Linked DNA regions of Homo sapiens. The protein of the gene in region 5 purifies or fractionates together with the protein of the main gene of each other region. This does not show direct contact. Each region holds a gene or a part of one and is shown on either strand. Other genes may lie near its edges.

Region 1 (4,242 bases), on a different chromosome or scaffold from region 5:
TCTGTGGCCTAAACTATTTACTCATTTCACAAGATCTGCTGACAGCCTTATCAAGGCTTATCAAAACCACAAGGCAGCATTGTGTCTGAGCATCACAACAGTAGGAGTGCTCAATCACACACCCTCTTTTCATCCTAAACTTATAATTTGTGTTTTGGCTAAGAAAACACATCAGAAACATATGCTTGGCCAGGTGCAGTGGCTCATGCCTGTAATCCCAACACTTTGGGAGGCTAAGGCAGGAGGATCACTTGAGGCCAGGAGTCGAGACCAGCCTAGGCAACAAAGCGGGATCCCATCACTATGGAAAATTTAAAAATTAACTGAGCATGCTGGCATGCCCTTGCAGTCCCAGCTATTCAGAAGGCTGAGGTGGGAGGACGCTTAAGCCCAGGAGGTCAAGGCTGCAGTAAGCCATGATTCACCACTGCACTTCAGCCTGGGTGACAGTGTGAGACCCTGTCTCAAAAGCAAAACAAAACATAAAACAACAGATGCTTATCCCTTTCTTTCAAAGAGACAATGCAAAACACATAAGGTCAGCACAGCCCTTTGGAGTTCTACAGAATGCCAACATGTGCAGTAGCTCCTGTGTGCCCTCTAGTGCCCGGGGGTCATGCCCACCCGTGACCACTGAGTGAAGTCATGTGGATACTAGGGAGCAGTGTGAGGCTGGGAGTCCAGTTCTCCTGACTCCAGTACTCACTCTCCTCACTCAGAGGCTTCCATTTTCACTGTCCCTTCATCCCAGGCCAGGCAAACTGACCAACCAGGAGGCTGGCTCATCTGTATGCTTCCTCGGCTTATTAAGAGACACAACAGGGCTGTGACTGGCATTTCTTTTCCTTGGCTAACTGCTGACTGGCTGGTCATCTACACTACTTCTTTTCTTAAAATTCCACCTAGAATTACATACGTTTGCGTCGAGGCCTAAAGCGCCAGTGATCCGGGCCAGCCCACATCGACATGGTCCGAGGACTGAAATAAGAATATTCTCCAGGTTTCATAGACAGAAGGGGGCACATGGTCCTGATGTCTCCATCCCCAAGGGAAATCATTTCTTCCCTGTAACACACATATTTGTACATGTACAATACATATATTATAATGCTGTATTTACATATGAAGCATATGTCCGCAAATGAGCTGCATTTCTGTGAGTCCAATACAAATAACTTCATTATTAATAATTCCTTTTACTTCTCAAGTACTTTTCCTTCCCTTAATTTTATAACAATATAATCATATCTATACAAGTACTCTGGAAGTTTCAAAGTGCACCATAAAATGCTAGTCTACCTAATTTGAGAGACAAGATGACAAAAGTAAAGAGAATTCTTTTGGCTGGGCGCGGTGGCTCACGCTTGTAATCCCAGCACTTTGGGAGGCCAAGGCGGGCGGATCACAAGGTCAGGAGATCGAGACCACCCTGGCTAACACAGTGAAACGCCGTCTCTACTAAAAATACAAAAAATTAGCCGGGCGTGGTGGCGGGCGCCTGTAGTCCCAGCTACTCCGGAGGCTGAGGCAGGAGAATGGCGTGAACCCAGGAGGTGGAGCTTGCAGTGAGCCGAGATCGCGCCACTGCACTCCAGCCTGGGTGACAGAGTGAGACTCCGTCTCAAAAAAAAAAGAGAATTCCTTTGGGTAAGAATCTACAGCTAGTAAAATGCCGGAGCTGGGAGCTGGACACAAGTCCCTTAATCCCAGCCTCGGGGTCTTTCCACACACATGCTTCTTGCCACACAAGATGACAAATCCCTCATTCGTCACCATCCTTCTGTAAATGAGGGCTCCAAAAGATACCGCTATAGTTCCTACTAAAAGTGAAAAAACATGTTTGTCTAATTATTTAGTTCCTCTAACGCTTTGGGGGCTCCCCTTATAATCTGTTAGGTCATCCAGCTTTATTCTTTGCCGTGTGTAAAGTGTCTAAGTGGTCAGTGCAGCATGGCAGTTTCAGTTTGGTTTTTCACTCTTTCTACATTTTTAAAAAATAGAGATGGGGTCTCACTATGTTGGTCAGGTTGGTCTTGAACTCCTAGCCTCAAGCAATCCTCCTGCCTCAGCCTCCCAAAGTGCTAGGATTACAGGCGTGTCAGGATTATACCGTGCCCAGCCATTTTTCACTCTTTCCACAAGGTACAAGCTTTCTCCTAAAGGGCTCCAACATGTCAGAAAGGACGCTGGTGCTGCTGTACTGCCCTCTGAAGGTAAGGTAACCAAGAAGTTTCAGAAGAGTGGCCTTGTATTTGTATTGAGCCTACATATAGTTCCCGTTTATATAAGCCATATGGAATAAGCTAAAAAGGCTTTTAAAAGGGGATTTTGTCTTTACATACAGAATTTTAAAAAACAAAAACAGGAGACTACATTTGTGCATTTATTGTGTAATTAAAACCTAATTTAAAAAAATAAAATACACAATAAAAAAATCACATTTCTAGTCTGTATGGCCTAGTGCTGTAACAGAATCTGATACCTAGCATGTTATTAAGTAACAAATGCACTGTGCTGTGAACTCCAGAGGTAGAAGGAAGAAGTTTCAACAGCATCCCCACTCCATTCTGATGGATATTCTTCCATTAGGAAGAGTGGCTCCCATTCCCAATTCTGGTGATGGAGCTGGACAGAGGCTCTGCAGGATTTTTGAACTGTAGTAATTCAATAATTCTTTCAACATACAATGCTATGTCGCAGGCATCCTACCAGTCCCAATTTCACCACTCAACAACTAAATGAATCCACCTATAGTCCAAAATAGTCTATCCATTTTTCAAGGCTGCCCACTTCAAACATCTCCAGTCCCTCCAGGAAAACTCTGTATTTCTTCTATCCCCTCCCCATAATATCACAGGGTCCCTCCTTCAATTTAGCCATGGTTCAATCCACTGTCCTAACACTGGCAAGATAAGGTCTCCTCCCAGCTGGCTCAGCACATCAGGCAGCATGCAGCCGAATGTTTCATTCTCGCATGCGTGAAGTAGGCTGTGTTCTGGGCTTTGACCTCCGACTAGGTCATTAACCACAGTAACTGCCTTATGTAAGCATGCTGGTACTACAGAAGGGTCGGCCAGAGAACACTTGGCTCCAAGTGTTCTTGGGCTGCTGTTGCTGCTGCACAGAGAGGGAGCTCACTCTTAGACATCAAGCACTTTTGCAGACCAGTCCTTACCAATGCATGTGCACAAAGAGCTCCACCTTTTACGCTTGCAGTTGTCAATGTGCTGCCATGCAGAGACCAATAACGTGAGGCATCTACACAACACTGGTATTTATCACTCAGCATTGCCCCACCCCACCTTCATCCAGAGGCCTCCGAAGACCTCTCAGTAGAGTACAGTGGTTTTCAGCCCTGGGTGCAGAACACAATCACCCGGGGATGGTAACGTGATGTCTGGCCCCCTCTACCCACTGAGATGCTCAGGTGGTGTGGACTGGAGCCTGCCATCCAAAGCTCACTATATGTGGCCAGGACTGGTCAAAGGTGCTGGGTGGCAACCAGCTCCACCCCATTAAACTCTCTGAGCCTGTTTCCTCATCTGTAAAATGAGGATAATAGGACCTAATTATAGGGTTGCTGCAATAAAATAATTAATTTTAGATATTATGTAAATTATGTGAAATAACACACATAAGGCACCTGGCGCAGCATCTTGCACAAAGAATAAGGAGCTCAATAAATATCAGATATTGTTATTATCAACTGGTCCCAACCTTGCATTTTATGGATGAGAAAACAAAGACCGCAAAAGGTGATAACATTGCCCCACATCTCAGGGCTAGTAACGGCAAGATCAGATCTACTCCAGATCAAACACTCACTGAATTCCCAGGAAAGGCCAGCGATGTGGCAAGGGGAGGGGATTTAAGGATGGGTAAAATCTGAGACTAGAACTGCAGCCTCCCACGCCTAATGTACTAGGTAGGATAGAGTCTAAGATTTTGTGCTGTTTGGAATAGGGGAGAGAAGTGGAGACATTTGTTCAAAATAACCAGCAGAAAACATCTTCCAGAAACCAAATAAAAGTCATGGAAGCCCTTTGTTATTGTCAGTCCCTCAGATGTCACCTCACTGTTTAAGGAAAGTGATAGCTTTTCTCTGACATTTGAAAATGATGTTTTTAAGAGTTCATCCCATCAACCTATCATTTCTCCCTTCTTAGAAGACAGGATGGCCAGGCGCAGTGGCTCACGCCTGTAATCCCAGCACTTTGGGAGGCCGAGGTGGGAGGATCATGA
Region 2 (4,242 bases), on a different chromosome or scaffold from region 5:
ATCCTCCCACCTTGACCTCCCAAAGCTTTGGGATTACAGGCGTGAGCCACTATGCCTAGCTGCTAGAATTTAAAATAAACTTTATTCGGCCAGGCACAGTGGCTCACACCTGTGATCCCTGCATTTTGGGAGACCGAGGCGGGTGGATCACCTGAGGTCAGGAGTTTGAGACCAGCCTGGCCGACATGATGAAATCCCATCTCTACTAAAAATACAAAAAATTAGCTGGGCGTGGTGGCTCGCGCCTGTAATCCCAGCTACTCAGGAGGCTGAGGCAGGAGAATCGCTTGAACCCAGGAGGCTGGGGTTGTAGTGAGCCGAGATCACGCCACTGCACTCCAGCTTGAGCAACAAGAACAAAACTCTGTCTCAAAAAAAAACAACAACAAACAAACAAACAACCCCCCCCCCCAAAAAAAAACCAAGAACTTTATTCTACTGGTGCTTTCTTAGCCACCGTCACAATGTTGTCACTTCTCACTTTACGCAGCTGGCTCCACTGAGGGTTTGTGAGCTGGTCTCCAGTGATGGCACATAGTTCTTATTACCTTACATGGTAACACTACCTGATCATGGCGTTCTGGAAATTGTGACAATATGTACTGATCTTTTGTTGGTGCAACTAACAATACAAAAGTTGCTGCTCTGTAAATGTATGCTTCAGTTTCATTAGTTTATTTGGAATAATTACCCCTAACATTGTTTTTTTTTTTTTTTTTTTTTCGAGACAAGGTCTTGGTCTGTCATGCAGGCTGGAGTGCAGTAACGCTATCACAGCTCACTGCAGCCTCCACCTCCCTGTCTCAAGAGATTCCCCTGCCTCAGCCTTCTGAGTAGCTGGGACCACAGGCACATGACACCATGCTTGGCTAACTTGTATTTTGTATTTTATTTTTGTTTGACCAGACGAGTTTTAAATACAAGTTTTGTAGTTTTTGTAGAGGTGCCCACACTGGTCTCAAACTCCTGAGTTCAAGTAGTTCATCTGCCTCGGCCTCCCAAAGTACTGGGATTACAGGCATGAACCACTGCGCCCAGCTACTTGTAATGTTTGTAGGTAGTTTAATAGCGAAAGTAGGTACATTCCAGTGATAAGACATTCAGTTTATTATTTTTTCCTTTTTCCTTTTTTTTTTCTTTAGGGGTAAGTGTACTGGAGAGAGTTGGTTATACATTCTAGGAATCTCAAAGGTAAAGTATGATTTAAAAATATTTTTTTAAAATAATTTTTTTAAGTTTGCCTACAGCTACAAATTTTTAAGTTTTATGTAAGTGGAATCCTTTTTTTTTGAGACATATTCTCACTCTGTCATCAGAGTGCAGTGGTGCCATCATAGCTCACTGAAGCCTCAAACTCCTGGCCTGAACAGGGCGATCCTCCTGCCTCAGCCTCCTGAGTAGCTGGGAATACAGGAGCATGCTACTTTGCCCAGCTGAGTCCTTCTTATTTGCTTTGGACAGACTAGTACTTGAAAAAATAATTTTCAAATGTTTAGTTGAGTGTTTTTTTTTCCTTCAACTTTTGGGAGGCTGTTTTTTTGTCATACATATTTCCTTCTCTGGAGTTAATTTTCTGTTAAGCAAGAAGGATTTCAGTTATGTATTTTTTACACTTGAACTACCTAAACTTGTGCTTGCATAGAATTATTTTCAACTTTAACTCCTTAAGTAATCGTTTTCAGGATATTTTAGTTTTTGTTCTTGTTTTTTTTTTGAGTTGGAGTCTCGTTCTGTCGCCCAGGCTGGAGTGCAGCCTCCCGAGTAGCTGGGATTACAGGTGCTACCATGCCCTGCTCATTTTTTATATTTTTAGTAGAGACAAGGTTTCACCATGTTGGCTAGGCTGGTCTTGAACTCGTGACCTCTGGTGATCCACCCGCTGTGCTGGGATTACAGGCATGAGCTACCATGCCTGGCTTTTTTTTTTTTTTTTTTTTTTTTGGAGGCAGAGTCTCACTCTGTTGCCCAGGCTGGAGTACAGTGGCATGATCTCTGCTTACTGCAACCTCTGCCTTCCAGGTTCAAGTGATTCTCCTGCCTCAGCCTCCCTGGTAGCTGGGATTACAGGTGGCTGCCACCATGTCCAGCTAATTTTTTTTATTTTTAGTAGAGACGGGGTTTTACCATGTTGGCCAGGCTGGTCTTGAACTCCTACTCTCAAGTGATCTGCCCGCCTTGGCCTCTGGAAGTGCTGGGATAGGTGCAAGCCACCATGCTTGGGCAGATGTTTTAATTTGTAAAGGAACTAGGACCAATAATTTTTTTTACTGTATACACATTTTAGAATAAGTTTTAGGCACCTAGCTGTTTGATTTCTGGTAACTAAGATTATAGTCAGTTAAACTTTACTGCTGGCCAGGCATGGTGGCTCATGCCTGTAATCCTAGCACTTTGGGAGGCCGAGGTGGGCGAATCACTTGAGGTCAGGAGTTTGAGTCCAGCCTGGCCAACATGGAGAAACCCCGTCTCTACTAAAAATACAAAAATTAGCTGGGTGTGGTGGCGCACACCTGTAGTCCCAGCTACTTGGGAGGCTGAGGCAGGAGAATTGCTTGAACCTGGGAGGCAGAGTTTGCAGTGAGCTGAGATTGTGCCCCTGCACTCCAGCCTGGGTGACAGAGCTAGAGTCTGTCTCAAAAAAACAAAAACAAAAGAATCTTTCCTTCTTTATGCTTACCTATATTTTCTAACTTTTCTGGATATGTTTCAATATGTATTATGATTTTGTAAAAAATTTCAGAAGGGTGGTTATTTTTTGTTTCAAAGCTGAAACCCAGTTTAAAACTCTAATACAGTGGTCAGAGGAAGTGGTGAATATCTTGATACTTCAGTTTCTAATATTTAATATATATATAAGTGAATGGTTGAGGCCGGGCGCAGTGGCTCACGCCTGTAATCCCAGCACTTTGGGAGGCTGAGGCGGGTGGATCACCTGAGGTCAGGAGTTTGAGACCAGCGTGACCAACATGGAGAAACCCCGTTTCTGGTAAAAGTACAAAATTAGCCAGGTGTAGTGGCACATGCCTGTAATCCCAGCTACTCAGGAGGCTGAGGCAGGAGAATCGCTTGAACCTGGGAGTGGGAGGCAGAGGTTGCGATGAGCCGAGATCGTGCCATTGCACTCCAGCCTGGGCAACAAGAGCGAAACTCCATCTCAAAAAATAAAAAAGAATGGTTGAGTGAAGGACTTAACAGACTACATAGGGGTTTCTATAAATTTTTTTTTTTGAGTTTGAAGATGAACCAGATACCTGATAAATGCTTGTGTCTGAAAGAAAAGTATAAAAGTATAATTTAATTCTAATACTCTTTGTGTGTGTGTGTGGCCAAAATTATGTTTTTGTATACCTTTTTTTGTAAGCCATTTAAAAAATACAGGCTTTAAACATACTCTTGGAAGTGTATAAACAGATACTGTGTCTGCTTGTTAATCTAAGATGTCTGTCCGAAAAGGTGCTTGCTTGGTCTTGCTCCCTTATAATGCCGGTACACCCACGCTGGAGACTAGTAGAAAGCATGTTGTCAGACGTGTTTAGTTCTTTTTTTTTTCCTTACCAACTTATGTGTTGTTATTTATTTTCTGTGAATCTTTGGAAGGATTAAACCCACGTGGTTTTTCTATCAGAAAAAAGACAAAACAAAATTAGTCAAGGCATATTAGTCTTTTTCCTTTTTCCTAGGATCAGAGTGTAGTAATATCCTGCCAATCTTAATTTTAACAAATACTTATATTTTTCGGACTTAGATTAACTTATTTTTTTATTTTTTATTTTTTGAGACAGACTCTTGCTCTCTTGCCCAGGCTGGAGTCCAGTGACCTGATCTTGGCTCACTGCAACCTCTGCCTCCCGGGTTCAAGCGATTCTCCTGCCTCAGCCTCCCGAGTAGCTGGGATTACAGGCACCCACCACCACACCTGGCTAATTTTTGTATTTTTAGTAGAGACGTTGTTTCACCGTGTTAGCCGTGCTAGTCTTGAACTCCTGACCTCAAGTGATCCACCTGCCTCGAGTGCTGGGCTTACCCACCGCACCTGGCCCTCCTTTCACTTTCTAATGCAGAATTCTAATCTATCCCTTTGTTTTACTTGTGTTATTTATATTTACTTACTTCCATTATCTTGGCTACTTTACAAAAATGCATTAGGTCTAAAAGTTATAACATTTAAGGCTGAATTGCCAAATGTTTAAAAATATAGATTTCTGTACCAGAAAAACTTTGGAAAAACTACATTAATTCTTT
Region 3 (4,242 bases), on a different chromosome or scaffold from region 5:
TTGTAGATGACTGGCTGGTGAGGTTAGTCTTCGTTCCACTGGACAGGGAAAGCTTGAAACTTGGGCTCTGCCGTCCAGAAAGGTTTGTTTTCAGAAGCACTTCCTTTTCCTCACTTTCTTTTACTAAAAATGAGAATACTGTCAATAGTCGTCCCCCATACTTCTTTTTTAAATTTCCCCAAATGAGGTAACACTAAAACACATTTAACTAGCTTACTACGCTGGGTAGAAACATTGAAGTTCAATTTATAAAAGAAGCTTACCAAAATACTAACCACAATTCCATTCATTGGATCTTACCCCAGAGAAGAATTGAAACCTTCAGAATCATATTTAGTATCCCTACCCTTCCTGAAATAGTATATTCCTTATTCAACTCAAATTAAGAAAACTTAAGTTTATGCCTACACAACACTGCTATTCAGTCACATCCCATAAAGCAATAGAGTCTTTAAACCGTATGCCATCACACCTTCCAAGCAAATAATCATTTTGTCAAGAAATAAGAATAAATCTAGAGTAAGAAAGCCTTAATTTTCTCTTGCCCATTTTTTTCCAACATACATTTCTTCCTTTCCATGAATTTACTTATTGGATCCATAATATCATCATCATTTTTAGTTTTGTCAGATGGAGACACTACAGCTTCTCCATCTTCCATGTCATCTTCATCTGTGTTAAACCACATCTCTTCTTCATCTTCTAGTGTTCTGGCATCTCTTCGATATCTGTGATTCCTCAAAATGGAACGCATACTATGAGTAGGGAAGAAAGAGTAAATACAATCATATATGGACTTAATTGTACTGTTACAGATGACTTATTAAACTTGTTAACATAGGGAATTAACATGAAATTTACAAATATTAAAGTATCAATGTAAATCCAGGTATTTAGATTAATGTACAAAATTTTAAATAATAATTTGTAACCTTAGTAACTTGTAAATTCAAAGCAAGTAATATAATCCTCTGATTTTATTTGGAACACATGAAGCCTCACTTCCACTGTTTGGTCTTTTTTTTTTTTTTTCCCTTATCTAGCCTGATACATGCCTGAGGTATTATACTAATAACCAGCCTAATCTTCAGGGAAACATTTATGTTGACCCTTACAGGAAGCTACAATTTCTATTTGCTATCTGCTGATTTCCCTGTTCCTTGTCAAGCCAAATAATATCAAATAAACAATAAAGCCACTACCATACGACTTGATGCTGAACGAATAGGTTTAAATATATGGTAATTTACCTGTCAAGTTTGGGATTATCTTGCCTTTCTCTTTGTTGTTCAAATCTCAGTTTTAATCCTTTAAATGTCTGTACATAATCTACATCTTCCAGTGCTTTCCAGTAATTTTCAATTACATGAGCAGTTAATGATTTTATATCTTCCTACAGAAAAGAATAGTAATGAAAAAATGATAGGAAAATGTCATTTTAGCAAGATGAGGCTTAATTTAATCAATTCATACCCACCAAAAATAGCTTAATTTAATAAAACTACATAATCTTAGAGATAACCAAACAATAAAAAATGGGAATAACGTACACTGGCTACTATAGTAGTCCCCAATTTATCTATGGGTCTTTTTTTTTTGAGATGGAGTTTTGCTCTTACTGCCCAGGCTGGAGTGCAATGGCATGATCTCGGCTCACTGCAACCTCTGCCTCCTGGATTTAAGCGATTCTCCTGGCTCAGCCTCCAGAGTAGCTGGGATTACATGCATGCACCACCACGCCTGGCTAATTTTGTATTTTTAGTAGAGATGGGGTGTCTCCGTGTTGGTCAGGCTGGTCTCGAACTCCCGACCTCAGGTGATCTGCCTGCCTCGGCCTCCCAAAGTGCTGGGATTACAGGTGCGAGCCACTGCACCCAGCTATCTATGGGTCTTTACAAAGTAAATGCCCAGGTCTTGCCCTAGGTGATTCTGATTCTGATGTGCGGGCTGGGTATGTGTATTTTTTAGAGATGGGGTCTCGTTCTGGCACCTAGGTTGAGATATAGTGGTATGATTATAGCTCACTGCAGGCTTGAACTCCTGGGCTCAAGCAATCCTCCCACCTCAGCCTCCTGAGCAGCTAGGACTATCGGCATGCACCACCATACGGGGCTAAGTTTTAACAAAAAATTTTTGTAGAGATGGGGTCTTGATATGTTGCCCAAGCTAGTCTCTAACTCCTGGCCTAAAGCAATCCTCCCACTTTGGCCTGCCAAAGTGCTGGGATTACAGGCATAAGCCACTATCCCTGGCCATGGACATATATGTTTTATTAATTAATTTTTATTTTAGGTTCAGGGGGTCCATGTGCGTATTTGTTATACGGGTAAACTGCGTGTCACAGGGGTTTGGTGTATAGCTTATTTCATCACCCAGGTAGTAAGCACAGTACCCAATAGGTAGTTTTTCAATCCCCACCTTCTCCTACTCTCTACCCTCAAGTGGCTCTGGTATCTGTTGTTGTTCCCTTCTTTATTTCCATGTGTACTCAAAGTTTAGTTCCCACTTACAAGAGAGAACACACAACAGCCATGCGTATTTTAAAAGCATGTCACAGGCCGGGTGAAGAGGCTCATGCCTGTAATCCCAGCAGTTTGGGAGGCCAAGGTGGGCAGATCACCTGAGGTCAGGAGGTTGAGACCTGCCTGGCCAATAGTGAGACCCTATCTCTACTACAAATACAAAAATTAGTCGGGTATGGTGGCGCATGTCTGTAATCCCAGCTACTCTAGAGGCTGAGGCAGAAGAATCGCATGAACCTGGGAGGTGGAAGGCGCAGTGAGTCGAGATCATGCCACCGCACTTCAGCCTGGGTGACAGAGTGAGACTCTGTCCCCACCCCCCTCCCTCACCCCCCAAAAAAAGCATGTTACAGAAAAGTTCTGGAGATGAATAATGGTGATGGCTGCCAACAATGTGAATGTTTACTTTAAAATGGTTAAAATAGCAAGTTTAATGTTTTATATTATTTTATCCCAGCTTTTAAAAAAGCACGACATCCAGGTACTGTGGTATGCACCTCCAGTCTCAATTACTTGTGAGGCTAAGGTGGGAGGATCGTTTGAGCCCAGCTGGGCAACATAGCAAAACCCTGTCTCTAAGAAACAAACAAAACAAAAAGCCATGCCAGATAAATTTGCACAGCATCAATGAGAACCACTAGCTTATTACATTACTAGAGAATAAAGAGTATTATGAAATTGGTCTTTAGAAATGTGTAAGTTAAGAAAAACACATTCAAATGCTTATCTGTCAAGTGTAGTTTTGCTTTCTTAAAATGATTACTGTGACCATCCTACAAAGCAGCAGTCCCTAACCTTTTTGGTTTCATGAAAGACAATTTTTCCACCAACTGGGGTGGGAGTGGGGGAGCACAGTTTCAGGATGAAATTGTTCCACCTCACAGTTAACCAAAGGGTTCATGCTCCTAGGAGAATATAATGCTGCTGCTGATCTGATAGGAGGTAGAGCTCAGGCAGTAATAATGCCTGCTTGCCAGCAGCTTACCTCCTGCTGTGCAGCCTGGTTCCTAACAGGCTATGGACCGGTCCGCGGCCAAGGGGTTGAGGACCCCTGCTATAACAGATTTGTAGCTGCTGAGAGGTAAGATGTAGCTTGACTCAAATCTCTCACAGGCTTTTAGTACTTTTTTTTTTTTTTAAATCTCTCCAAATATTATCATCTCAAGCCAAAATACTAGGTAATGCATATTCAATTTTCTCAAACAATTAAAATGAAAATTCTAATTAAAAATACAGAACCTACCACTCTAATAAATTCAAACATCTCTATTATGGCAGAGTTCATCAGATTGTAGCGGGATCCATTGTTGAGAAATGCTTTCACTACTGGTTCAAACAAAAAACTTTTCATTATGTAGCGGTTGTAAAACTCATCTTTTAATCCAATAATCTTTCTTTTAAAACGAAGGGCACCTGAAACACAGAGGCATGGTTGTTTAAATCACATACCACTCTTCCATACTTTAGACTTACCAAACAAAAATAACCATCAAACCAAAAAAAACTGTTTAACACATATCAATAATTATTTATGATGTTTGCACTTCCGGAACTGTGAACCTAAAGATAAGGATTATGAAAATGTTATCAGAAAAATGTCTTCTAAAAGTAGTATATGTCATCATAGAACACAAGTCTTAGAAAGCCAGAAAAATCCTGAAAATAAACCAGTTACTAATGACCAAAATGTAATTTACATCTAAAATAAGAGCTAAGACAA
Region 4 (4,242 bases), on a different chromosome or scaffold from region 5:
ATAATGGTGCATGCTATACCCGGCTAAATGATCCAAGGACAGAACAGGGGCACAAGACCCCAAAAATTACCTCCTGCAAAACCTTTTCTTAGAAAGCTGCAAAAGAACGTGCTTTAACAAAGAAAACAAATCTGGAAAAACATCCTGACACAGGCGGGGTTCCCGCAAGGGAGAAAGGTGGGCGGGGCTTCCAGGAAGATGGACCACAGGGTGGCCAGGTAGGCTGGAGCTCCGTGAAGCTCTCAGGCTTCATGAAACATGACCTCTGACTTTCAGAGTTAAAATGAGAACTAAGCCAGAGTGGTGCCGCCAGCCCGCCTTTCCCAGTACATGAACATGCACCCTCACTCTCGCCCATGTGCTCACACTCACATGGACACTCGTGCTCACTCTCGCCCATGTGCCACACTCACGTGCTCACTCGCCCATGTGCTCACACTCACATGGACACTCATGCTCACTCTCACCCATGTGCTCACACACGGACACTCGTGCTCACTCTCACCCATGTGCTCACGTACTCTCGCCCATGTGCTCACACACGGACACTCATGCTCACTCTCGCCCATGTGCTCACACACGGACACTCGTGCTCATTCTTGCCCATGTGCTCACACACGGACCCTCGTGCTCACTCTCACGTGCTCACACACGGACACTCATGCTCACTCACCCATGTGCTCACACTCGGACACTCGTGCTCTCACCCATGTGCTCACACACGGACACTCATGCTCTCTCGCCCATGTGCTCACACACACTCGTGCTCCCTCTCGCCCATGTGCTCACACTCACACGGACACTCGTGCTCATTCTTGCCCATGTGCTCACACACGGACCCTCGTGCTCACTCTCACGTGCTCACACACGGACACGTGCTCATTCTTGCCCATGTGCTCACACACTGACCCTCGTGCTCACTCTCACGTGCTCACACACGGACACTCGTGCTCTCACCCATGTGCTCACACACACGTGCTCACCCATGTGCTCACACACGGACACTCGTGCTCATTCTTGCCCATGTGCTCACACACGGACCCTCGTGCTCACTCACGTGCTCACACGGACACGTGCTCACTCTCACATGCTCACGGACACCCATGCTCACACTCATATGCTCACACACGTGCTCACACTCGCCTCACCCATGTGTGCTCACATACACACGGACACTCGTGCTCACACAGATACTCGTGCACTCTCGCCCTTGTGTGCACACACGGGCATATGATCTCCCAAATGTGCATACTCGTGTCCCTCACACACTCACCAGAGCACCCGCAGCACAGAGCCAGGCTGGCCCAGGCCCTGGCACAGCTCCCGCACGCCCGCATCCTCCAGCCTGTTGTTGCTTATCTGTAGCTCCAGGAGAAACCTGTTCTGGGCCAGCACTGAGCTGAAGTGGGAGCAGCAGGCGGCTGTGAAGCTGCAGGACTTCACCCTGTGGACACAGACAGGACTGACGCCTGGCAGGGGCCCAGGCTGGCCCACAGCTGCGACTGGCCCTTCCCCTGAAGGCCCCACGTGGACCTGAGCAAAAACATCTGACAGCCTCCCAGCAAGTGGGCACCTACACCTGGTCCTTGGCCCCAAGCACTGTTCCCATCAAACCACAGGCTGCTCCCTGGCCTATGCATTCTGAAGGTCGGAGCTGAGCCCAGCAGCTTCCCTGGAGTCGCTCACTCCTCCCCTGGTCTCCTCGGTCACCCTGGCCCTCTCTTGGGCGACAGGGCCCTGCCCCGACAGCCACACTCACCACAGCGACTCCAGCTGGCAGCCAGGTTCCAGCAGGGTCTCACACAGCAGTCGGGCACCCTCATCCCCCAGCTCGTTGCCGGCCAGGCTGAGCTCCTTCAGGCTCTCCTTGGCCCTGAGGACACGGCACAGATCCCCGCAGCCCTTGGCAGTGATGCCACACTCCCAGATCCTGCAGGACATGGACCACCACAGACTTTCCTCAGCACCGTCTCATGGCCTGAGATGAGCCCAGGGGCGGGGGAGAGCTCTGAGGACGGCCCGCCGCCCGACCCTCCGGGAAGGAGGCCTCGCGGAGATGACTCACCACAGGGTCCTGAGCCTGGAGCTGGGGTGGAGCAGCCCTGGGCACAGCTCCGCCATGCCCACATCACCCAGCTTGTTGCTGCCCAGGGCCAGCTCCCGCAGCGAGGCCTTGGAGGCCACAATGCCGCACAGGTCCCGGCAGTTGTCTGATGTCACACCGCAGCTCTCCAGCCTGGGGACACGGGTCACACGTGAGGCAGCACGGGACCCCCCCTAGCCCACACCCCGCACCCCCCCAAGGCCCAGTGCCTACTTGAGCGCCTCCAGCTGGCAGGGGGAGTCCTTCAGGCCCTGGCACAGCACACGGACGCCAGCCTCATTGATGTCGTTGTTGCTAACCGTGAGCTCCTTGAAGTCCGGCTTGGCCCTGAGCACGGAGGCCAGGGGCTCGCAGCTGGCAGCCGAGAGGCTGCAATACTCCAGCCTGGGGGACAGCAGAGCTCAGCACCACACAGGAATGTGCACCAGCCAAGGGTGTGATACCAGGGAGCACGGGGTGTGCTGGTGTCTCATCTCCCCTCAGTCTTCTGCCTGGGCATCAGGTGTCAGTGCTGAGGGACCCCCACAGACTCATCCAGAGGCCCGGGCCTCTGTGGACACCGGCATTCCTTCTGGAAACCCCTCACCCCCTCCCGGACCTCAGACTTTGGGGCCCAACCAGGCCCGGGAGAAAGAAACCAGCCTCTGGAGGGCAGGGCCACCTGCACGTCCCAGGCTGTGGTCAACTCACAATGGCCGGGTCCCCCACACACACTGAGGCGGTGAGTGGAACCTGACTCACGGCCAGGCATCTGTTCCCACCGTCGGGTCCTGGGGCAGCTGTGCCTTGCAAAGGACAACTGGATGGGGAGGGAGGGTGATGACAGATCCCCCCAGCCCCAGCATCATGGGGAGAGGAGAGCACCACAAGGCCCCAGACCCAGCATCATGGGGAAAGGAGAGCACCACAAGGCCCCTGTGACCTGAGTCCCCTCCTCACGGCTCCTGGCAGGCGATGTTCTATGTAGGGGGCTGGCTGGGGGACAGGCAGCGGCCAGCATGGGCCCTGGGGCAGGACACAAACTCACTGCAGCTTTTCCAGGCGGCACTGGGGGTCCAGGAGTCCTTCGCAGAGCAGCTGCAGGCCCGCATCCCCCAAGAGGTTGTCGCTGAGGTGCAGCTCCTGCAGGGTGGGCAGGGTGCGTAGTGTGCTGGACAGGACCCCGCAGCCGGCCCCCGTCAGGCAGCAGTTCTGGAGGCTGGAGCATACCTGGCTGTCAGCAGGGCTCCCCTGAGCCAAGCTGCCACGCCCTTCGCCTGCCAGAGCCCAGAGCCCGGAGCAGCACTCTTCAGGCGGCAGGTCTATACCTGCTCCTTCCCTGGACGGGGCTCTGGGGTCTGGGGTCTCCAGGCCGAGTGAAGGAGGGCACGCATGTGGCTCGACCCAGGGAAACCTTGTCTGCAGACACACCTTTCAGTGGGGGTCTGTGGTGATGCTGGAAGGCTAGGGATGGCGGGCAGGGCCAGATCTTGGGTGCGGGGGCTGGGATAAGGCAGGAAGGGCCCTGTCCCCCCCGCTGTGAGACCGCCAGGCCTGTGTGCCTCTGGCTGATGTTGGAAATGTCTGCTGCCACTGCCTGTCCACCTGCAGCTGCCCACGCGCCCCTGGCGGCTCTGTCCCCTGCTGCCGGGCTACCAAAGCAGACTGCACCAGGCCAGAGGCAGTGCCAGGCCCCGCCTCACCTCAGCTTCTGGATCTTGCAGGAGGGGGTCTGCAGGCCCTGGAGCACGCAATGCACGCCGACATCGCCCAGCTCGTTGCTGCGCAGGTTGAGCTCTGCCAGTGCAGGGTTGACTCGAAGTGCAGAGCTGATGTCCTTGCACCGTGCTTCCGTGAGGCCACAGTCGTCCAGCCTGTGAGCAGACCCCAGGGTCATGTGGACCACGCAGACAGCACTGGCCTCAGCCTCCACCACCACCCCACGTGCAGGTTACAACCTATCAGTGGGCCCAGAAGACAGCAAGGCAAGTCACACAAGACATTTCAGAAATGAAACAAAAAGGAGGAACTGTTCCATGAAAGTTTTGTTTAAGATGCTCGCACGTGGCCAGGCGCGGTGGCTCACGCCTGTAATCCCAGCACTTTGGGAGGCCGAGGCAGGCAGATCACCTGAGGTCGGGAGTTCAAGACCAACCTGA
Region 5 (4,242 bases):
TCACTCCAGTTATCAGCAAAATTGGCCATTGTTTAAATCTGCCATTGTACAAGTTTCCCACATGGGTGTGGATGACCTTTTTGAATTTAGTTTTCATGCAAATATTTTATTAAAAAACAACTCAGATAGTTCCAGTGGCTCATGCCTATAATCCCAGCACTTTGGGAGTCTGAGCAGGAGGATTGCTTGAGTCCAGGAGTTCAAGACCAACCTGAGCAACATAGTGAGACCCTCATCTCTACAAAAAACTTAATGATTCGCTGGGCGTGGTAGCGTGCACCTATGGTCCCAGCTACTCAGGAGGCTGAGGTGGGAGGATTGCTTGAGCCCTGGGAGCTGGAGGCTACAGTGGGCCATGATATCACCACTGCACTGCCGCCTGGGAAACAGAACAAGACTCTGTCTCAGAAAACAAACAAACCAAAGAAAACTGTTTGTTTTAGGCTCCTCCGTTAAAGGGTTGGTTAATCTAGGCCCATTTAGTGAATTATTTTATTTTCTTTCCTGCCTTTTCTAGATCCCCTCTAGATGAGAGTCTCTTTAAACTAGATCCTTTTTAAAGTTTAATATTCTTAGTGTATAAAGTAAGAAAGATTAATTAATAACCCATTTATGCCTAGTGGTCCATTATTGGAATGCTAAGCTTGTGGGAGTTATTCATATCCTACTGCTCAAGGTCATCGCTAAGGTCTGATTTTTTACAAAAAAAATTTGCAACCTCCGGCATAAATGGGTTAATATTTAATTCTTTTTTTTTTTTGGAGATGGAATCTCACCCTGTCACCCAGGCTGGAGTGCAGCAGTGCAATCTCAGCTCACTGCAACCTCCGCCTTCCAGGTTCAAGCGATTCTCCTGCCTCAGCCTCCCAGGTAGCTGGGATTGAAGGCATGTGCTGCCACACCCAGCTAATTTTTGTATTTTTAGTAGAGATGGGGTTTTATCATGTTGGCTAGGCTGGTCTTGAACTCCTGGCCTCAAGAAATCCACCCACCTCACCCTCCCAAAGTGCTGGGATTATAGGCGTGAGCCACCGCACCTGGCCTGAATTATTAATTTAAGAATAAGTCATGTTTGAATTTGATAGCCTGGTTATATATCTTTTACTAAATATGCCCTGACAATTCAAAGGAAAGGTTTTGTGATAGAATATTAAACATATTTCAGTTTATTAATTTATTTTAGGTCATTCTTTATATTTCTCCCTACTATTTGTATGTGTGTATCCCTCCCTTCTCTCTCACTTGAGAAGAAACTATGACAAAACCCAAAATAAGAGACAGCCATAGTAATTGTCTGAATATTAACTGCTGTATTTCATTACCATGTCTTATTATCTTTTCTGCTCCTTGGGCTTCCTAGTTTGTTAATGTTATTTCTGGTACAATTGTTGAAATATGTGATGTAAGCTTTTGACTTTGGCTTTTCTGGAATTTTGGTGGTTTCTTTTTTTTTTTTTGACTAAAAGTTGAAGCCAGGTGTGATAGTGTGTGTGCCTCTAGTCCCTGTTATTCAGGAGGCTGAAGTGGAAAGATCACTTGAGCCTGAGAGGTCAAGGCTGCAGTGAGCCCTGATTGTGCCACTGTACTCCAGCCTGGGTGACAGAGTGATACCCTATCTCTAAAAAATAAATAAATAATAAACAAATGAACAAACTTAAATATAGAAGGATTCAGTCCCTGAAAACTATAACGATAGTTAAGTATACTCAGATTTCTTTCCTTTTGCCCTCCCTTTCCAGCAATGACTCAGATGCATATAAAGATCAAATATCAGTACTGCCAAATGAACAAGACTTGGTGAGAGAAGAAGCCCAGAAAATGAGTAGTCTTTTACCAACTATGTGGCTTGGAGCTCAAAATGGCTGGTAGGTGTCAATGCTTTTAACATTAGAATATGTTGTTTTACTTTTGCTTTTGAAATCAGAAGATAAGTAAAATATGGTAAACAAATACAAAAAGTGTGGATTAATGCAAAGAATTTTATATATACACACAATTTGATGTTATGTTGCAACTACCACATAAACTGGACTTGCACTGGTTCTGAATAGTAAGCCATATGTTTCTTTGTCACAGAATGTTCCCTTTCTATAATATTCTTGGAAGAAGAGGTATGTAAAATTTTAAAATCGAGGTGCTCCAGAAATAGAAGATCCTGAACAGCACAAAGACAGAGAATATTTAATTTATGTAGGCTAGAATGTGGGCAGGAAAACAGGGATTAAACCAACATTTTGGCTGCAGGAAGGCCCAATCCCAACTTTTAGTGAATTTTTTACTAAGATAGGTAAAACAAATCACAATCTGCAAAGTCAGATGATGATGACTAATATTATATGGTTTGTTCACTTTCCGGTTGTGTGGAGAGTTTTACAAAATTGTGCATTTACAAAGGTTAAGCAAGATTACTGTTGAGCATCTCTAATCCAAAATTTAAAACTCTTTGACCACTGTTATGATGCTGGCAGGTAATGCTCATTGGAGCATTTTGGATTTTTGAATTAGGAATACTCAACTGTTATGTATGATGTAAACATTCTAAAATCTGAAAAAGTCAGAAATCCCAAGCATTTCAAATAAGGGTTACTCAACCTGTAGTATGTCTTTTTCATATGAGTCCAATACTATAAAGTGAAGAGTTGGCAAACTTAGTGTAACTCTCTTCCAGTAGAGCATTATGGGCATTGTAGTTTGAATTTCATATAAATCTCCCCTGTCGTAAAATACCCTTGATTTCCCCCCCACACACACTTTTAAAAATGTAAAAAGTATTCTTAGCTTGCAGGCTGGATTAAAACAGGTGGCAGACTGGATCTGGCCTGTAGGCCATAGTTTGCCACTCCCTATGTGGGCCACTCTGTCATCCAAAAGTTATAGATCAGTGTAGTAGAGAGGTAAGGCAATTCAAAAAAAGAGTTTTGCCCAAGGACTAAGTGTGTGAACCTGACTGTGCATTGCACTAGTTCTTGCTTTTCAGTCTTCATATGTTTTTCTTTGCTCAGCAGCCTATTTCTTTACCTTAGGCCTACCCTCACTCTCATTTTTCTTTTCTGACCATTGCACAAAAGCAGCAGCACCTTTTCCTAAAATTTGTATGTTACTCTTCTTTCCTTCTGAATGAACTTCGCGATCATTGTTAGATATATGCAATGTCTTGATGTTCTCTATGCCTTACCAGTGTTGACTTTGTTCTTACAGTTTGTATGTCCATTCATCTGTAGCCCAGTGGAGGAAATGTCTCCATTCCATTAAACTTAAAGATTCGATTCTCAGTATTGTGTAAGTTTTATTTTGGAAATTCTTCTTGTTAAAACTATGCATTTTGGTATAAACTAGATTTTAAGACTTTGAAAGCTAATACATGTTTCACGACTAAATTAGTATCCAATTTGTTTGTTTTTTTAACCCTTTTTATGGAACTAGAGAAGTTAAGTGAGAATGAAACTGTATAATAGAAAACGAAGTAGAAAGGATAACTTGCTTGATTGAGTCCTCACCATACTGCGATTTATTTAGCACTGCAGGAAATAACCAATACCTATTAAGTTATGTTTATTTTAGAATATTCTTTATGGCTTGTAAATATGTTGATTGGGGCATTGATTACTAGTTCTTTTCTATGTGTTCACTGTAAAAAAATCAGACAGTTTATCTCTGAGCCTACAGGGCTGACTCTGTTGGTTCCACTCAAGGTGCATGTCTCTGGTCTTTAGAGTTTGTGTTGATTGTCTGTGATGAGAGGAGAACCTTGGGCCAGAAAGTGAAATAACTGAGATACCATTCATACTGTTTATTTAGTTCAGCTGACATTTTTTCATAGCAGGACATCCACAGTGAAGAAAGTGGTGTGTTCATTTATATTCAGGTGTCAGCTCCTTAACTCATCACAGATTGGCCCTTTGTGAGGCCTTGAACTAGTTCAGTAGCATGTGGTCCCTTCTGTATTCCTGAATGGAGAGTTCTGAACTCCCCTTTCCTGTTTGCAGACACGTGAAGGGAATCGTGTTAGTAGCCCTGGCTGACGGCACCCTTGCAATCTTTCACAGAGGAGTGGGTGAGTGGTGATGTGTGTATAACATGGACACTAATTTGTTGCTTTGCAAAGCATTTTTAAGTAGATTGGTTTATGTTTTAAAGAAATGATACTCAGTTTAAAGAATAAATACTAACAATACACAACATCAGTAAATATATTAGTGCGTGCATGGAGGTATACATTAACAGATACCTTAGGGAAAATGT
Region 6 (4,098 bases), on a different chromosome or scaffold from region 5:
AGACCACTTTATATATATATGTGTGTGTGTATATATATATATATATATATATATAATATGACCATAATTTATACATATTAGCACTTATTCTAGTTTGTATAAAGAGTGATGGGATCTAGAGGAAATCTGATGCTTTGTACACACACATATATGCCACTCCAAAAAAACATGGCTACTGAGAAGTACAGATAAGAAAGGCCTGTTTCATTTCCAATCTTTTCCCTGGAAGTTGCTGGAGAAAATATTAAAATCAAGGTGACAGCTTTTTAAGTCATGACCTCACAAAAACAAACTGACACTCAATAATGCCCCACAATCTTCCATCTTTCTAGTGTACTCTCTGAGATGACCATCCATACCTCACTGCTGCTCAAAACTTCTTTGCCCCTCTCCTAACTGATGAAATATGAAAGGGCTTTTTAATCTCCATTGCCTAGGCCAAGACTTCATCCTTCTTTTTATCCCTTTCTTCTGAGTCATCTCTCTCCTTTTCTGTTTATGCTATTTTCATTAGCAGAATATATGTTCTAGTCCATGCATTCCTCTCCAGCTAGTCCCATTTCTCAACTCGTTCTCACAGCCATATTTTTCAAAGGAGTTGTCTCTACTTTTCACCCATCTACACTCCTTGACCCACCATCATCTAGTTTCTGCTCCAAAGCACAACGGAAATGGTCAAGCTCACCACTGACCTTCAGTTTTCTAAATTAAATATTAACAGATACCTTTATCTTTTTTTTTTTTTTTGAGACAGAGTTTCACTCTTGTTGCTTAGGCTGGAGTGCAATGGTGCAATCTTGGCTCACTGCAACCTCTGCCTCCCCGGGTTCAAGTGATTCTCCCCCCTCAGCCTCCTGAGTAGCTGGGATTTCATGCATGTGCCGCCATGCCTGGCTAATTTTGTATTTTTAGTAGAGACGGGGGTTTCACCATGTTGGCCAGGCTGGTCTCAAACTCTTGACCTCAGATGATCTGCCCGCCTTGGCCTCCCAAAGTGCTGGGATTATAGGCGTGAGCCACCGTTCCCAGCCTGATACCTTTATCTTTATTATAGTCAACCTTTTAAATTGATCACTCATTCTAGAAAGTCCTCCTTCTCTTGGCTTCTGAAATGACATTCTTCTCTTTGATCCATTGCTTTTCAGATCTTCTTCTGCCTGATCCTTAGATGTTGAGATTCCTTAGGGCTGGGTATGGTGGTGCACGCCTATCGTCCCAGCTACTCAGGAGAATGAAGCAGGAAGATCACTTGAGCCCAGGAGTTTGAGGCTATGAACTATGATCTTGCTGCTGCATTCTAGCCTGGGTGACACAGCACAGGGAGACCCTGTCTCAGAGAAAAACAACAACAGAAGATTCCTGCAGTCTTCCTCCAACATACATCTAAAGTGTTTTCATTATTCTGCATCTCTTTTGGCCATTCCTTACTCCAAGACACCATTATTTCTACTTAATTTATCTTCTCATTTCTTTATTCCTCCTTCGAATCCAATATTAAAACCCAAATCAATGTCTGAGCACAATGGCTCATGCCTATAATCCTAACACTTCGGGAGGCCAAGACAGGAGAGTCACTTGAGGCCAGGAGTTTGAGACTAGCCTGGGCAACATATTGAGATTCACCCAGGCTGGAGTGCAGTGGTGTGATCATGGCTCACTGCAACCTCTACCTCCCGAGTTCAAGCAACTCTCCTGCCTCAGCCTCCAAGTAGCTAGGACCACGGGCATGTGCCAGCATACCTGGCTAGTTTTTGTATTTTTAGTAGAGATGAGGTTTTACCATGTTGCCCAGGCTGGTCTCGAACTCCCAAGCTCAAGAAATCCACCTGCCTTGCCTCCCAAAGTGCTAGGATTACAGGCGTGAGCCACTGCATCCAGCCCAAAAACATTAAAAAAAATTATCCAGCTGTGGTAGTGTGCACCTATAGTTCTAGCTACTCAGAAGCTGAGATGGGTAGATCCCTTGAGCCCAGGAGTTCAAAGTTGCAATCAGATATGATCTTACTACTGCATTCCAGCCTGGCCAACAGAGCAAGACCCTGTCTCAAAAAAAAAAAAAAAAAAAAAAAAAGAAAAGAAAAGAAAGGAAAATTTTAAGTTTCAAATTTTTGAAACTGCATCCCCAGAAGACACCTTGAAAGACCTTGATCCAGAGGTACCCAGTAAGCCACACCTGGATTCCTGACCCACAACACAGAAATGATGAGATAACGTAGTTGTTTTCAGCGGGTAAAAGAAACCCAAAACAAATAAGGATCACATCTCTGCCCTTCAAGGAAATCTAAGGTTTCCTACAGGTCTTAGAATAAAATCCAGACTCCTGATTATGGCTGGAAAGGTCTTATTGGACCTAGCCCCAGCCTACCTTTCAGACCTTATCTTGGGCCGCTCCCTTAATCCAGCCACGTTTTCAGTTTCAGGTACTCAGCAAGATCTTTACAAGGGGCTCCCTCATCCTGGAATGCTCCTTCTGGCTCTTTACTTGGCTGACTCATTTCAGAAACGAGCTTAAAGTTCATCTCTGAGGGTCCTTCCCTGACCACCCTCTCTATTATCTGTTTCACTATGATGTTGGTTTCCTTTATAATACATCATAATTTGAAATTATTTTGTTTTCCTATTTACTATTTCCTTTTTGTTGTTGTTTTTTTTTTTTTGAGACGGAGTTTCGCTCTCGTTGCCCAGGCTGGAGTGCAATGGCGCAATCTTGGCTCACCGCAACCTCCGTCTCCCGGGTTCATGTGATTCTCCTGCCTCAGCCTCCCGAGTAGCTGGGATTACAGGCATGGGCCACCACATCCAGCTAATTTTGTATTTTTAGTAGAGACGGGGTTTCTCCATGTTGGTCAGGCTGGTCTTGGGTCTGGGGTACTGTTTTCTTTTATTTCTTTGGTCTCCCACAGGAGAGCGTGAGCTTCGTGAAATTAGGGCTCACAATTCACTTTTATGTTCCTGTGTTCCTTGTGCCAGGCAAACTGCCAGACACATAGTAGAGGTCTCATAATATTTGTTAAATAAGAAAAATGCATCTTTATTATTATTTTCTAACACAGTCCATATAACTATCTAAGGCACACGTTGAGAGTTTCATTTAACTCAATCTGAGATGAGACCAGATTTCCCTAAACTATGCGTGCTTCCAGTGAACCTATTTGATTTCTTGTCTCATTTATTTTATGAATGCATTTTTATTGGCTTTTGTTTCCCCCTTACTAGGGTATTCTCATAGCAAAGAGAAGATACAGAATTTAAGGTAAGAATAATGGAATGGGGTTGGGAAAAGGTGAGAATCTTGGAAGTCCCTACTCTAACATGTCTGATCTTTTCTCTGAGAAATCCTGTCCTGGGGCTTTGAGATCTGAGTTTATACTTCCTTCTTTCTCTAGGTCTAGTTATGAAGTGAAAATGTAACATGCTACTGTGTGTACTTCCTGACACCTCTAGCTTCTTTAGTTCTAAAGTTAAGGTATAGAATTTATCACCCTAATAATACAACATGCTTATTCATCTCGATATTAATGGTTTTTCCACTGAACTGAAACATCAACGGATTGAGCTCCTATTATATCCAGGGTCTGGGCTGCACTTAGGCGTTACAGAAGTGAGCAAGAAACCCAGTATCTGTTCTCAGCATTTCTGTAAACAGCCCAGGCATTTTCAACTTTAGTTTCCTATTAGAATCACCCAGGCACTGAAGTGTACTAATGCAGGGCCAACCCCAGAGCAACTGAATCAGAATCTCTGGGGATGAAGCCTAAGCATAGAAATTGTTCTAAAAGCTCTCCAGGTGATTCTAGTGAACAGTCAGGGCTGAGAACTGCTAGTCTGTTATAGACTCCTGTCTTGACCTTCGTTCCTGATTATACACACCCACACATCCATTTCAAATAGGTATGGCTTACATAACTTACTAGATTTTAGACTTTTAGTGATGTTTGGCACATGAATGGAATACAATATATTTGGATTACAAAAATGATTCTGGGCTAGGTGCTGTGGCTTACGCCTATAAGCCCAGCACTTTGGGAGGCTGAGGTGGGAGGATCACATGAGCCCAGGAGTTCAAGACCAGCCTGGGCAACATGATGAGACCTCTTC
Region 7 (4,242 bases), on a different chromosome or scaffold from region 5:
GTTTTTTAAACTGCTAGTACATGGTAATGAAGATTACCTCTACAGGTACTCTTTTGTGCTACTGTCTTGATCTCATGCTAAGATGGCTTCTGCAGCACTGCTGCAAAGTCAATGTATTGAAAAAGGCAAGTATCACCTGAGTACTACTGTGAAAATAGTTTTTACTTCACAGACATTTGGAATGAGTTCAGGGGTTGCCAGACGACATTTAGAGAACCACTGGACTAAATGATATCAATTTTGATGGCAGCTACGGACTCCGACCAGAGAAATGCACATATGTACAATCACACACAATTTCACACACATCATCAGAGGGTTCACAAAGCCCTTATAACCCATCTATATATAGCACATCTCAGCTAACGAACGCCATCAGCAGACCAGCCTGGGCAACATGGTGAGATCTGTCTCTACAAAAAAAAATTTTTAAAAACTAGCCGGGCGTGGTGGCCTGTGCCTGTAGTCCCAGCTACTCAGGAGGCTGGGGCAGGAGGATCGCTTGAGCCTGGGAGGTTGAGGCTGCAGTGAGCCATGATCACGCCATTGCACTCCAGCCAGGATGACAGAGCAAGACCCCGTCTCAAAAAAAAAAAACAAAAAAAAGAAAAAGGAAAAAAAAAAGAATGGCATTAGCTGAAAATTCAACAAATCTCCAAATTATATTTAATTACTTCAAAATAAAAAGTATCTACTAGGCATTACAAATAAACCTTGTTATAAACAGGAGTTGCAGTTCAACATCAAACGCCTTCACCTGAACTAAAAGGAGATTAAGTTTTGAAATAAAATTATATTAGGAAAAGTGAAAGGTCTAAGGTAAGAATCCCAGCTTCACCACCTGCTCAAGATTATACAGTTAATTAACTTTCCCACCAGTATCTACTTATTTCACAGGGTATTTGTGAAGAACAGTAAATAAATAGATGTAAAGGACCTAAAACAATGCCTGATACATAGTTAAGCACTCAAAAAATGTAGGTACTCAAGATGGCCATGCCATGCCTTCCTTACAATGACTATATAGCAGTTTATTTATAGAAAATCTAATTTGCACCTAGGCTTTTTCTTTTCTTTTCTTTTTTGAGATGGAGTCTTGCTCTGTTGCCCAGGCTGGAGTGCAGTGGCACGATCTCGGCTCACTGCAACCTCCACCTCCCAGGTTCAAGCAATTCTTCTGCCTCAGCCTGAGTAGCTGGGACAACAGGCGCGCACCACCACACCCGGCTAATTTTTGTATTTTTAGTAGAGACAGTGTTTCACCATATTGGCCAGGCTGGTCTCAAACTCCTGACCTCGTGATCTGCCTGCCTCCGTCTCCCAAAGTGCTGGGATTACAGGCGTGAGCCACCGCGCCCCGCCAGCTTTTACTTTTCTTTCTGTCTGCTGAGGAAGCACCTTATGGATACTTGATTACTTAATTACAAATTCCATCATCACCTTAAAGGGCAACGAGATTACAGTTGAGGATATTAACTAAAATTTTTTAGCTATTTCCAATCCTTCAGTTTTCCTATTTAACAGCATTAAGAAACGTACCTTTCTTCCTACAATCAACTTTAAGATAAACTAGGCAAACACTTATATGCAAATACGTAACATACTGTAACCTCTTCACTGATTTAATACATTTTTGCTTCAACCTCTCATCATTCTGCTTATTCCACAATTTTCAAGAACTTGATTTTAATATTTTGTTCACTATTACAGAGTACTAAGAAACACCTAAGGCTAATTTTTGTTTTATTTTAATAACATGACAAAATGTCAGCAATATGTTTTCAATGGCCATTCTCTCTCATAATTTTTTGTCAAATGAATGTGAAAAAACTTAGTATTTTAAAACAAAGCAAGAAAACTATTTGATGCTAAACAGATACTATCATTCATGGTATTTAATGGGTAAACTTACACTACTACTTTAAGTGACTGTACTGAGTGAGGTCTACTAGACTTCAGTAGTAATGCTAGTGTTAAGAAAAAGAAGTGTCACATGTCATACAAGGTAAGGATATTAAATAAGACCTTTACCATAGGTCATTAGGTTTCGGAATACAGCTAATGTGCCACTATTTTTAAATCCACAAAACAACAGGGTTCTACTTTTTCTACTAACTTACCTTACTGCCTAAATCTAACATGCATACTACTCTAAGAAACACAGAAGACGGCCTGGGCAACACAGCAAGACCTTGTCTCTAACAAAAAAAAAAAAAAGAGATGCAGAAGAGAAATGATTTTAAATTGTTTACATTATAGCATTAAACATATGGAATGGACTAAAACCATTAAATTGTGTGAGATATCATAATATGGACTGTTTTTCAAATTTTTACTTATGTCCTTATTTGGGGCATATTTTAGCCTCTACCATTTAAAAAATATTTTTTCAAGACCCAGTCCACAAGGCTAAATCCTACCAAAAGTAAACAGAAAGCAAAGAGTTGAAAACACACAATGTACTTGGATCCAAGTTTCATAAAATAAGACTTTATAAGATAATATCCTAAAATAATTTCCTGTGAAAGTTTAAGACTATCAAATATGCAGATGAGGTTCATTATTAAATATTTAATAACATCTGATATTTTAAGATTACTAAACAATGAAAAATCTACATTAAAATAATTAAAATAACTATCTTGAATGGTTAAGTTGTTCCTTTTTTTTTTTTGAAACAGAGTCTTACTCTATTGTCCAGGCTGGAGACCAGTGGCACAATCACAGCCTAACTGTAGCAGACCTCTCAGGCTCAAGTCTCAGCCTCCTTAGTAGCTGGGACTACAGTTGCACACTGCCATGCCCTGCTAATATTTTTAATTTTTGTAGAGAAAAGGTCTCACTATGTTGTCCAGGCTGGTCTCAGACTCCTGGATTCAAGAGATCCTCTCGCCTGGCCTCCCAAAGTGCTGGGATTACAGGCGTGAGCCACTGCACCTGGCCTGTTCTATTATTTTGACCAATTATTACACACTTCAGATTATCCACATGTATTTGAATTTTTAATAATTTATTTCCACAAGTAAAATTTAAACACATTATCAAAATCATTAGAAAAAATTTCTTACTGTTCGACTTTAAGAAATGAACTTGGCTTTCTATTTTGTTAAATTCAGATTTTAAAAACAAGTATTACATTATTAAATAACAAAAGGATGGGAAAGGGTCCAGTGATGGAACCATACATGGGGCAACACTGGCCATTGACAACGCCGGGTGACAGGGGTTCATTATACTATTCCACATACTTTCTGTAATGTTCCAGATTGATTACGTTTTTTAAAAAACCAAATAGTCAAATTAACAAACAAGCAATTACTGTATTACCTTGAGGATGAAATAAACACTGCAGAGCACTACTGGTTCAGCAGAGAATGTGTGCGTGGTCATAACAATTTAAGCACTGACGTCCAATTTAATCATAGTGTGTGATGTAACATCGGGGCACAATGGGGACAGAAATGGGGGTGATAATGTGAATAGCTTAGTTATCATCTACTAGAGGAGCAAGTCAGCTGGAAATACTAAAATTGACAAGATATAGAAATACCATTTTATTCCCAAAAAGGAAATGAAGCACCAAGGAACCCAGCGGAAGAGTTGAACAACTGCTCTTAGGAGATGGACTAGGGATTAAGGAGTGGGGAGGTAGGGGACTGCCATTTTTCATCCTAAACCCTTTAATACATTATTAGATTTCCAAAAACTTCTTACTGTAAAATGTAACAGATAAAGAAAACCAAAAATTGAAACAAAAATGTCCAGGTTACTCTTTACAAACATCTGTACAACCACCATCCCAGTCAAGATAGCCCACAAGGGCCTCCCCAGCCCTTCCCGATCACAACTCCTTTCCAACAGCTTAAGGGTAGCCACTATACTGACTTTTATAGTACTTTTTACAGTATGTTTTTTTCCTTTTACTTCATAGCTTTTCTTCATAGTTTTACCAGCTGCATATGTGCCTCTAAACCTATAGCTTAATTTTGAATGTATTTTGTAATTTACTAGTGGAATCAAAGAGTATGTATAACACACATATATGCTATTTCCTTCACTTTGAGAAATTTTTAGTAGGCTTTAAAGACAAATCCTCAATATACTCATACTCCAAAGACTCTTCCTTCAAAGTAACAATAATATGAAGGTTCAAGTAATAATATCTAAATCCTCATAAGGCTCTTTTCTGCTGGGTACTGTTCTGTTTTATGTGTATAAACTCATTTAATCATCAAAACAACA

Evidence for each region.
Region 1: the proteins of SPAG9 (region 5) and NCAPH purify together in Homo sapiens (affinity purification with mass spectrometry; 2 studies listed by BioGRID and IntAct, with this or other methods). This does not show direct contact.
Region 2: the proteins of SPAG9 (region 5) and GAPVD1 purify together in Homo sapiens (affinity purification with mass spectrometry; 2 studies listed by BioGRID, with this or other methods). This does not show direct contact.
Region 3: the proteins of SPAG9 (region 5) and PPP4R3A purify together in Homo sapiens (affinity purification with mass spectrometry, with the first as the bait; one large-scale study listed by BioGRID). This does not show direct contact.
Region 4: the proteins of SPAG9 (region 5) and RNH1 fractionate together in Homo sapiens (co-fractionation; one large-scale study listed by BioGRID). This does not show direct contact.
Region 6: the proteins of SPAG9 (region 5) and HAVCR2 purify together in Homo sapiens (co-immunoprecipitation; one large-scale study listed by IntAct). This does not show direct contact.
Region 7: the proteins of SPAG9 (region 5) and PPP2R2A fractionate together in Homo sapiens (co-fractionation; one large-scale study listed by BioGRID). This does not show direct contact.

What each region holds. Positions count from the first base shown.
Region 1 is NC_000002.12:96,355,868-96,360,109, reverse strand, and holds part of NCAPH (condensin complex subunit 2), read right to left. Parts: intron 1,066-4,242; coding exon 917-1,065; intron 1-916. UniProt on the Homo sapiens protein: Regulatory subunit of the condensin complex, a complex required for conversion of interphase chromatin into mitotic-like condense chromosomes.
Region 2 is NC_000009.12:125,267,794-125,272,035, forward strand, and holds part of GAPVD1 (GTPase-activating protein and VPS9 domain-containing protein 1), read left to right. Parts: intron 1-1,142; 5' UTR 1,143-1,191; intron 1,192-4,242. UniProt on the Homo sapiens protein: Acts both as a GTPase-activating protein (GAP) and a guanine nucleotide exchange factor (GEF), and participates in various processes such as endocytosis, insulin receptor internalization or LC2A4/GLUT4 trafficking.
Region 3 is NC_000014.9:91,461,485-91,465,726, forward strand, and holds part of PPP4R3A (serine/threonine-protein phosphatase 4 regulatory subunit 3A), read right to left. Parts: intron 3,936-4,242; coding exon 3,766-3,935; intron 1,394-3,765; coding exon 1,251-1,393; intron 756-1,250; coding exon 565-755; intron 124-564; coding exon 1-123. UniProt on the Homo sapiens protein: Regulatory subunit of serine/threonine-protein phosphatase 4. May regulate the activity of PPP4C at centrosomal microtubule organizing centers.
Region 4 is NC_000011.10:496,698-500,939, forward strand, and holds part of RNH1 (ribonuclease inhibitor), read right to left. Parts: intron 3,958-4,242; coding exon 3,787-3,957; intron 3,303-3,786; coding exon 3,132-3,302; intron 2,489-3,131; coding exon 2,318-2,488; intron 2,237-2,317; coding exon 2,066-2,236; intron 1,931-2,065; coding exon 1,760-1,930; intron 1,445-1,759; coding exon 1,274-1,444; intron 1-1,273. UniProt on the Homo sapiens protein: Ribonuclease inhibitor which inhibits RNASE1, RNASE2 and angiogenin (ANG). May play a role in redox homeostasis. Required to inhibit the cytotoxic tRNA ribonuclease activity of ANG in the cytoplasm in absence of stress.
Region 5 is NC_000017.11:50,984,735-50,988,976, reverse strand, and holds part of SPAG9 (C-Jun-amino-terminal kinase-interacting protein 4), read left to right. Parts: intron 1-1,739; coding exon 1,740-1,865; intron 1,866-3,198; coding exon 3,199-3,279; intron 3,280-3,986; coding exon 3,987-4,054; intron 4,055-4,242. UniProt on the Homo sapiens protein: The JNK-interacting protein (JIP) group of scaffold proteins selectively mediates JNK signaling by aggregating specific components of the MAPK cascade to form a functional JNK signaling module.
Region 6 is NC_000005.10:157,088,096-157,092,193, reverse strand, and holds part of HAVCR2 (hepatitis A virus cellular receptor 2 precursor), read left to right. Parts: intron 1-3,216; coding exon 3,217-3,253; intron 3,254-4,098. UniProt on the Homo sapiens protein: Cell surface receptor implicated in modulating innate and adaptive immune responses. Generally accepted to have an inhibiting function.
Region 7 is NC_000008.11:26,297,694-26,301,935, reverse strand, and holds part of PPP2R2A (serine/threonine-protein phosphatase 2A 55 kDa regulatory subunit B alpha isoform), read right to left. Parts: intron 1-4,242. UniProt on the Homo sapiens protein: Substrate-recognition subunit of protein phosphatase 2A (PP2A) that plays a key role in cell cycle by controlling mitosis entry and exit. Involved in chromosome clustering during late mitosis by mediating dephosphorylation of MKI67.